Regions from separate parts of the Homo sapiens genome. Here region 2 is linked to region 1. The links come from fine-mapping of genetic effects on gene expression. A gene starts in region 1. The other region holds a variant in brackets. All regions are shown on one strand. Distances are from middle to middle.

Evidence for each region. PIP is the estimated chance that this variant, and not a neighbour inherited with it, causes the effect.
Region 2: its variant is the best candidate, but not a certain one, in a credible set for the expression of GBA2 in whole blood (TOPMed, PIP 0.90).

The regions. Positions count from the first base shown.
Region 1 is chr9:35,746,666-35,751,052 of GRCh38, forward strand. GBA2 (glucosylceramidase beta 2) reads right to left here and starts at 2,563. Exons shown (of 17, transcript NM_020944.3): 1 at 1,681-2,563. The coding sequence starts at 2,039. RGP1 (RGP1 partner of RAB6A GEF complex) reads left to right here and starts at 2,622. Exons shown (of 9, transcript NM_001080496.3): 1 at 2,622-2,743; 2 at 3,072-3,206; 3 at 3,578-3,714; 4 at 3,993-4,076; 5 at 4,175-4,324. The coding sequence starts at 3,091. RefSeq lists silencers at 2,262-2,661, 2,782-2,831, 2,862-2,911.
Region 2 is chr9:35,804,908-35,809,294 of GRCh38, forward strand. NPR2 (natriuretic peptide receptor 2) reads left to right here. Exons shown (of 22, transcript NM_003995.4): 13 at 604-763; 14 at 923-1,078; 15 at 1,158-1,326; 16 at 1,485-1,631; 17 at 2,116-2,239; 18 at 2,423-2,491; 19 at 3,602-3,776; 20 at 3,848-3,946; 21 at 4,249-4,340. It also overlaps a transcript of SPAG8 not described here. Among named protein-coding and RNA genes, the nearest start is that of SPAG8, 5.2 kb to the right of the region's middle. The variant AGCTGGGGCC/A (reference allele first, on the strand shown) is at 2,497.

The DNA of each region.
Region 1 (4,387 bases):
ATGACAGGAAGGCAGAGAATCCTCTCTGCCAGCTTAGAGAAAACCGGACTTTGAAACTAGAGACCAGAAAGGACTGGTAGAGGGAGGGTGTGGCCGAGGATTAGGGCAACCAGGGAGAGTAACTGCAATCTATGAGGACAGACAGAACAAAGGACTATCTGGCATGGAACAAGCACTCAATAAATATTTATTGAATGAGTGGACTCTGGCTGGAAGGGAGAACAATTGAAATTGAGTTCTTACGAAGGTAAGACCCAGAGAATTCTGTCTTGCTAGAGCTCCTGGTCAGAGTGCCCACAGTTCAGCTCCATCTTAGGAGCTCTCTTACTCCCTTAATATGGTAGCTGGCCATTCCTGACCTATTTGGCCTTCTCCACAATTTCAACCTCAACTCAAGAGTTATCACTTAGAATTCTTGTCTCACCTGTGCTTTCTCCTCATAGGAACTCATCCTATTCCAAAAGCCTTGTATCAGTACCCCCCACTCTATCCTGGAATGGGGAGCCAGGGTCCAGGGGGTTGAGCACAGCTTCAGGCCTCTATGACTCAGTTCATATTTAAGGGCTAAGAGGCTAGGATGCCCATCTTTTCTTGATCTCATTGTTCCTACCACATGCAACTCAGTGTACTTCTCTATGTACACTAGATCCTATTTTGATGCAAAAACTTTTGGGGTCAAACTTGGACTGAATTGATTCCAGAAGCAGCCTGGAGGGATGATTCTTCTCTGCTACAGGCTACCCACAGGCACCAACAAAGCCAGATGTGCAGGCAGCATCAGGCCCTTCCCACTCCCCAGGGCTAGGGTTAGATAACTGATCTCCCCATCACAGCCCCACAGCACTGACTGGGGAAATGAAGGGTCTCCTACTCTAGAAACTGTAAGGGCAGGGTTTCCCAAGCTTTATGCCTCCCTCCACAGTTCTGTGTGTATTGTGTAGACTGAGTCAGGATGACCTCAGGGTGATGCTTTCTGTCCTCACATCCACCTGTTCCTGTTAATGGGTCTGGCTCCTCATCACTAGTCTTTGAACTCAGTGGGGATCTAGATGGGTTCTACATCTATGGCAGTGCCTCTCTGATAAATGACTTAATATCAAGAGCTCTCTATCCCAGAACAGAATGACAGCACCTTCTCATCACTTCAGAGGTGAGGGCAGGGAGGCTCTTCTTACCTACTCCCTGGAGCTAAAGCTTGAAGAAAGAAGCAGTAGTGTTGGGACTCTAACAGTGTGTCTAATGAGGTACAGAGAATGCCCCAGCTGCTTGTGGGAAATAAGGGGTTGAGACCCCCCCACCCCCAAATAAAACAACATTGTGTTAGTATCACAGCAGCCAGATTATCCTTTCCTACCTTGCCACAAAGTATAGCTAATCCCAAAGGGAAGTCATTGGAAACCAGTATGTGAGAAGAGCCTGAATGGGAAAGGCTGATTGCATGACCAAATGTTCCTACCCTTTCCTTCTGAAAAGACAAAACACTGGGAGGGAAGGGTGTTGCAAAGAGATGTGACCTGGTCTCACGGTCCAAAACCACAGGCCTAAAATATGCCAGGGATAGGGACCGCTTCACTCAGACAAGAAGCCCAACTGCTTTCTTGCCCTTTCCCACCTCTGCTAGAAGTTTTGAGCTGGAACAAAGTGAAGCCAAAGGCATTCTAGGCAATGGGGTCTACTCACCTCAAGCCCATGCCTATATGCTTTATCATGTTGCTTAGGGAGACGTTGTTAGCTTGAAAGGGTTTCCTCTTCTCTGTAAACTCATGAGCCAGACAGATGCGCCAGCCAAAGGGAGGCACCTGGTAGCCCATAGCTTTACCCTCATAGGAAACCATCAGCTGCCCAGAGTCCTCCGGATTGCAGCAGTCCGTCTCTTTTGGGGGTCGGCTGTCTTCGGGACTCTTACAGTCTGTAACCTGCACATCCTTGGTGCCGCCAGTCTCTTCAGGGCAATAAACTTGTGGATCCTCTTTGGCACAGCTTATCTGCTCCGAGGCTGGGACGCCGGTTCCCATGTTCCCTGGATCCTGGGTCCCCATGACCTCGATGGCGCCAAGTCCCGAGCCCTCGGATACTAAGTATCTCGCCAGCCTATTCCAGATGCGGGCGCCGGTCGTTGTTAGGTATCGTCCCGGAGGGCCGGGCGTTGGGGAAAGCTTAAATGAGCTGGTGTTTCAGTGGAGCCGGGGAGCTCTTGCTTCAGTGGGGGCGGCGACAGCAAAGAAGCCGCCTTGGGCTCTCCTTCGGTTGTCTCTGTAGGTCCTGGACGGGAAGGGTCGGGCCTCGTCGTCATTGAGCCGACGATTAGCTCGCCCGGCCAAAGGGCGACTGGGCCCGCAGAGAGGGGAGGAGCCGCGGGGCCAGCCCACCAGGCACCGCCCCGGGACGGGCCCGCAAGGCACCGCCCCCGGGACCTCGGCCCGGCCCCTGGGCCACGGCACCGGGTCCCCCAGGATTGGGCGCCAGGTCCCGCCGGCCGGCTCCGGGGCAGCGCCCGCGCCCAGGTGCCAGCCCGTGGGAAGGTGACCCTGGGCGCCGGGATGACCCGAGCCCTTTCCGGTCTGGCCTGCCGGGCGCTTCCGGCCGGAAGGGACTCCGCGGAGGGTGGGGGACCGAAGGGAAGTCCCGCCTCTACCGCCCAGCGGACGCCGCCGCCGCCGCCGCCGCCGCGTACCTAGCCAGGTCCCTGAGGGGCGGGCAGATGAGGCCTAGGGGTGCCGATCCCTAGTGTCGACTATGCGAGGTGACTAGCGGCGGTGATCTTGGGCTGGGACGTGGAACTTTGAGGAAAGGGGGAGCGGAGGCCAGTTTGGGAACTCCGCGGGGGTGCCCAGGGAGAAGAACCCGTCGCACAGGGGCTGGGGTCTAGGGCCCAGAGCGATGTCCTCCCCCTGGGCAGTACTGAGTCTTCAGTCGCCTCCCTCCCACCCGCCTACCCCTCCTATATCCAGGAGCTCCCTCGGGCACCACGGTGCTGACCACCCCTGTCCTCAGCCCTCAGCCCTAGGTGCTCACCGCAACGCCCCTCCCTGTCAAGGTGCTGACCTCCGCCCCGCCTTGTTTCCTTCTAGATCTGATTCCGGAGCTGCCATGATTGAAGTGGTAGCAGAGCTCAGCCGGGGTCCTGTATTTTTGGCTGGGGAGGCGCTGGAGTGTGTAGTGACCGTCACCAACCCCCTTCCGCCCACGGCCACTTCTGCATCCAGGTGGGGATGCTGGCACTGAAGGTGGTGGCCCTTCTGGGAAGAAGCCAGATTATCTCTGGGGCTGAGGCAGAGCTCAGGTTGTCCTGTAGCGACACCACCTCCTCTTGCTCACTGTGCTGTCATTGTAGGAGAGGGCTCTTTAACAGAAGATGTGGATGACATAGCTGTACGCTTTCCTTCCCCTCCCCCGTTCCCCTTTTTACGCACAGTCTGCTACTCTTTATTTAATGGTTTCTCTTTGGGATTGTGGATTTCCTGATCACTAGGACAGCCATCTAACCTTGTTGGTTAAGATGGTGTGATAGGGAGCTTGGGAAAGCATTTGTGAGGTCAGGAACTACCTCTGATGCCTCCTTTTCCTTTTCCCACAGTGAGGCCCTGGCCTGGGCCAGTGCCCAAATCCACTGCCAGTTCCATGCCAGTGAGAGTCGAGTAGCACTGCCTCCTCCTGACTCTAGTCAGCCAGATGTCCAGCCCGACAGCCAGACTGTCTTTCTGCCACACCGAGGTTAGAGAGGGGCATTTGCCTGGGAGAGGGGGGGTGCGGAGGGTGTGTGTGGAGGCATTGTCACCCATGGGTGAAGTTGTTAATTGTTCTTGTTCTTATAGTCCCTGTCATGCTGGGGATGTTGGGGAGCATGACTATTGCTTTAGGGGTAGAAGACTATTCCCATTTCACAGCAGGGACGGAGGGCCTGGCAGCCTTTCACTATCTCCACTTGCCGTGCTAGTCTTGTTCAGTACTGGACAATGGGTCATTAAATTAGTCATTTTTACCTTTTTCAGGTGAGAGGGGCCAGTGTATCCTTTCTACTCCACCGAAAATTCTATTCTGTGACCTGAGGCTTGATCCTGGAGAGTCCAAATCATGTGAGTGATTGTCCCCATCCCTGAATTGCCTTCTAAGTCTCCTGGAGGGAGGACTCCTCTGGTGCCTCTGGCTGTCCTGACAACTACTTCCCAACCAGACTCCTACAGTGAAGTGCTGCCCATAGAGGGACCACCCTCCTTTCGGGGTCAGTCAGTCAAGTACGTCTACAAACTGACCATTGGCTGCCAGCGTGTCAACTCCCCTATCACTTTACTCAGAGTCCCTCTGAGGGTTCTTGTGCTGACTGGTAAGCAAGGGCTCCTGGAGGGAAGGGCTGGGGAAGGGCGATGCCAAAGCAGAAATTGTCTTA
Region 2 (4,387 bases), 58 kb after region 1:
CCCTCTAGTAGATCTTGTTCCTCCTCTACCCCGACCTGCCCACCTCCCTCTAGTAGATCTTGTTCCTCCTCTACCCCGACCTGCCCACCTCCCTCTAGTAGATCTTGTTCCTCCTCTACCCCGACTTGCCCACCTACGCCTGGTTATGCATTAAAGTTTACAACTGGTCTTCCTTGGTATATCCAGCTACTCTTGATACCTGGGTCTCAAGTCATGTCTTCCTAATTAGTAGCCAGGTATCTGAGGCCACCATGGGTGTTATATCATTTTGGTCTTCACCCAAGTTCTGTTCTCTTCACTAATCAAGAAGATTGACTGCCCTCTCCAGGGTAGTCATTTGTAGCTCCACTTATCCCTCTTTTTAAGCATTTTCCCTGTCCCTGGTGGCTGGGTGCCTGTGTCCTGCTTATGATACCAGGAACAGATGACTCTTCTGTTCTTCCTGCTTCCTTGGGTGGAAACTGCAAAGGATGCCTTCCAAAATCAGCTTATTATTTTTGTGGACCCAAGATCTGTAGACAGCTAGCCAGTGCCCATCTCATGGAGAGAGGGTATTCTAAGCCAGATATGATCCAATCCCATGACTTGATCTGTACCCTGCAGGGCATGGCCTTTCTCCACAACAGCATTATTTCATCGCATGGGAGTCTCAAGTCCTCCAACTGTGTGGTGGATAGTCGTTTTGTGCTCAAAATCACAGACTATGGCCTGGCCAGCTTCCGATCAACTGCTGAACCTGATGACAGCCATGCCCTCTATGCCAGTGAGGCCCACCCCCACAACCCACTTTTTATATTGCTCCTCTTTCCACCTAGGGATGGTGGGAGAGGGAGGTGGAGTGACAGTAATATAGGGATGAGCCCAGGTGGGCTTGGGGGTGCCCCATTTCGGGGGACCTGGCCAGCCGGTTTCCTCTTTTCAGAGAAGCTGTGGACTGCCCCAGAACTGCTCAGTGGGAACCCCTTGCCAACCACAGGCATGCAGAAGGCTGACGTCTATAGCTTTGGGATCATCCTGCAGGAGATAGCACTTCGCAGTGGTCCTTTCTACTTGGAGGGCCTGGACCTCAGCCCCAAAGGTAAGAGTCAATCCACTACCCACAGCCTCTTCTTCCTGGGGGAACTCTGTTCTTCATCCAAACCTTTGATCACCCTCAGAGATTGTCCAGAAGGTACGAAATGGTCAGCGGCCATATTTCCGGCCAAGCATTGACCGGACCCAACTGAATGAAGAGCTAGTTTTGCTGATGGAGCGATGTTGGGCTCAGGACCCAGCTGAGCGGCCAGACTTTGGACAGATTAAGGGCTTCATTCGGCGCTTTAACAAGTGAGAGGGCATTATGGGGCAGGGGCTTCCCAGGGATAGAAGACTCATTAGTCCTAGTGCATGAAGTGGGGCAGGTGGGACCAGAGGGTGGGTTGGATAGGAAGTCCTGGGAATCTTCAGAATCTTAGAGCAAGTGCCTTATCCTGGCCTCCCTCTAGGGAGGGTGGCACCAGCATATTGGACAACCTCCTGCTGCGCATGGAACAGTATGCCAATAACTTGGAGAAGCTGGTGGAGGAACGCACACAGGCCTATCTGGAGGAAAAACGCAAGGCTGAAGCTCTGCTCTACCAAATCCTACCCCAGTGAGACTTTGTCCCCCTTCCTGTATTTTCTTTTGGGATTCTGCTCTGTTGGGCTCTGCCTCATCAGGCACCTGAGAACTCGCCTCCCCACCCTCAGAACCCTGCTGGCCACAGGGAGCACCCCTGCTTATAGATTATTTGCTGTCATTCTGTCTCCACATCAGCTATGCTGCCTTCTTACTGGCTGCCCATCCCTTCTTCTTAAGACCCTGCTCTACCACACCCTTGCTTCAGCAAGTGTATGTAAAACAGTCCCAACTTGAGACAGCTCCCATGCACAGGGATTCCCCTCAAACCCCCCCGCCACTTGTGTGCCTTACCTTGCATTAGACTGTAATGTCTTCCCAGCCACTTTCCTCCCTCCCACCTGAAAAGCCTAGCTTTCTTGTTACAGCTCATCTCTGCTGCAGCCACATACACTTTCCCTCTCTCTTCCACTCCTGCTCTCTTGGAGTTTGGCTCATACGGCACCCTTGCTTCCTAGTTCAGTGGCAGAGCAGTTAAAACGGGGAGAGACTGTACAGGCTGAGGCCTTTGACAGTGTTACCATCTACTTCAGTGACATTGTTGGCTTCACAGCATTGTCAGCAGAGAGCACCCCCATGCAGGTGAGAGCCATGGGTGAGAGGTGGCGGGTGGGGTTGGGTGGGTAGGGACCTGGGGAAGCCTCATTGATAATAGGAAAGATGAGTTTGTTCTAGAGTTCCCACATCTTTTGATGGCTTGTGGGTTAAGAATTCTTAGAAAATTGGGCACAAGTCTCAGGGCCTCTGCTTTTCTATCCCTTTTAGGTAGTGACACTTCTTAATGACCTGTATACCTGCTTTGATGCCATAATTGACAACTTTGATGTCTACAAGGTGAG[AGCTGGGGCC/A]GCTGTTCAATAGAAGACCCTTTAATAGAGACCCGCTTTGAAACTCAGTCTCCCTGAACCCCACACACCTTACCCACCCCATGATCAGTTTTCCCTCCAGGGTACTCAGCATCCTGGTGCTGGAGTGTACTTCGTAGACAGATGTAGCTCCAGCACTATAATTGTACACTCCAGTCGAATTTCTTGTGAATCCTTTGACTTCCCTAATCAGAACCATCATGAGATTTAGCTCCTATCTTCCTGGAGTATAAATACAGCCTATCCAACATTTCTCTCCAGTCCTCTCCAGACATGGAAGAATCATATAGGATGTGGGTCCAGACTGATTTAGTGGGGTGAGGGAAAATATATTTTAAAAAGTAAAACTTTTTGTTGAAGTTATTGAGTTGGATTTATTGTCCTTGGGAGTAAAAATCATCTGGATTTGAATATTGGCTTGTTGCTAACTGTGTGGCCTTAGGTAAGTCACAGAATCTCCCTGAGCCTCAGTTGTTTTATCTGTAAGATGGGAATAATAGATTCGTTGTATGGAAAGTACCTAACATTGTTTGGCATGTGGCAGACTACTATTTAGGGATAACTACTTTATCCCTAAATACTTAGTGTGTATTTCCTAAAAACTTCACTGTGTATTTCCTTAAAACAATGGCATTTATTCTCTTACATAGCTTTGGCACAATTACCAAAATCAAATGCCTGCTTTCCTCCTCTCTGACAGTTTGGGCTGTCAGGTCCATTTCACTGGGCCTGCTTTACCTCCTCACCAGCCTCTGTCCTCTTGAGTTACCGTTTTCTTGCTTCCCATTTCCTGATGGCAGAGCCTATTTGTCCATGTCCTGCTGCAGACAGGGTGTTCATTCATTCCGCAAATGTTTACTGAGTATTCACCAGGTGCTGGGTGGAGAAAGAAGACTTAAAGATTCCCTAGACATCTCCTCTCCCCTAGACTCAGGACCATGGCACTTATTTTCTAGTCAATATTCTGGTCTCCAGCATGTCAGGATGATTAATGATGGTGTCAAGCTTGTCTCCCTCTACTTTTTCCCATCCCCATGGATATAAATAGAGGTGACCTTTTAATCCCCCTCTCAATCAGGTGGAGACGATTGGGGATGCTTACATGGTGGTATCTGGCCTCCCAGGCCGAAATGGTCAACGCCATGCACCAGAAATTGCTCGTATGGCCCTAGCATTACTAGATGCAGTTTCTTCCTTTCGCATCCGCCACCGACCCCATGACCAGCTGAGGCTACGCATAGGGGTCCATACTGGTAAGGCTGACTCTCACTCCAGCCCTAGTCTCCACCTTTCCCAGACTCTCCCAACCTGTTTCTTCTCAAAGGGCCAGTCTGTGCTGGGGTTGTTGGCCTGAAGATGCCCCGTTATTGTCTTTTTGGAGACACAGTGAACACTGCTTCTCGAATGGAGTCTAATGGTCAAGGTAAGACATTAGCCCTCAACCCCACTGTTGGCCTCAATTTATCTTGCCCTTTTCTTCTTTTCATAATCCCTCCAATTTCTTAATCTGAGAGACCACAGTTCCTTAGTGTCGCATCCTCGGGCATATTTTGGTTCTAATAGATATGCATTGGGAGGTTGGGCATATTTTGGTCCTAATAGATATGCATTGGGAGCTTCCCAGGGATGGTTGGTCGGGCACGGTGCTATACAGTATCACCAATTATTTGATTGCCTTTTCTTTGATTCCTCATTCCACCATCCTCCCCATTCCACCCACCCCAGCGCTGAAGATCCATGTCTCCTCTACCACCAAGGATGCCCTAGATGAGCTAGGATGCTTCCAGCTAGAGCTTCGGGGGGATGTGGAAATGAAGGTGATGGCAGGCCATGGGGAGGGGGGCATGGAAAGGGAGGGTGAAAG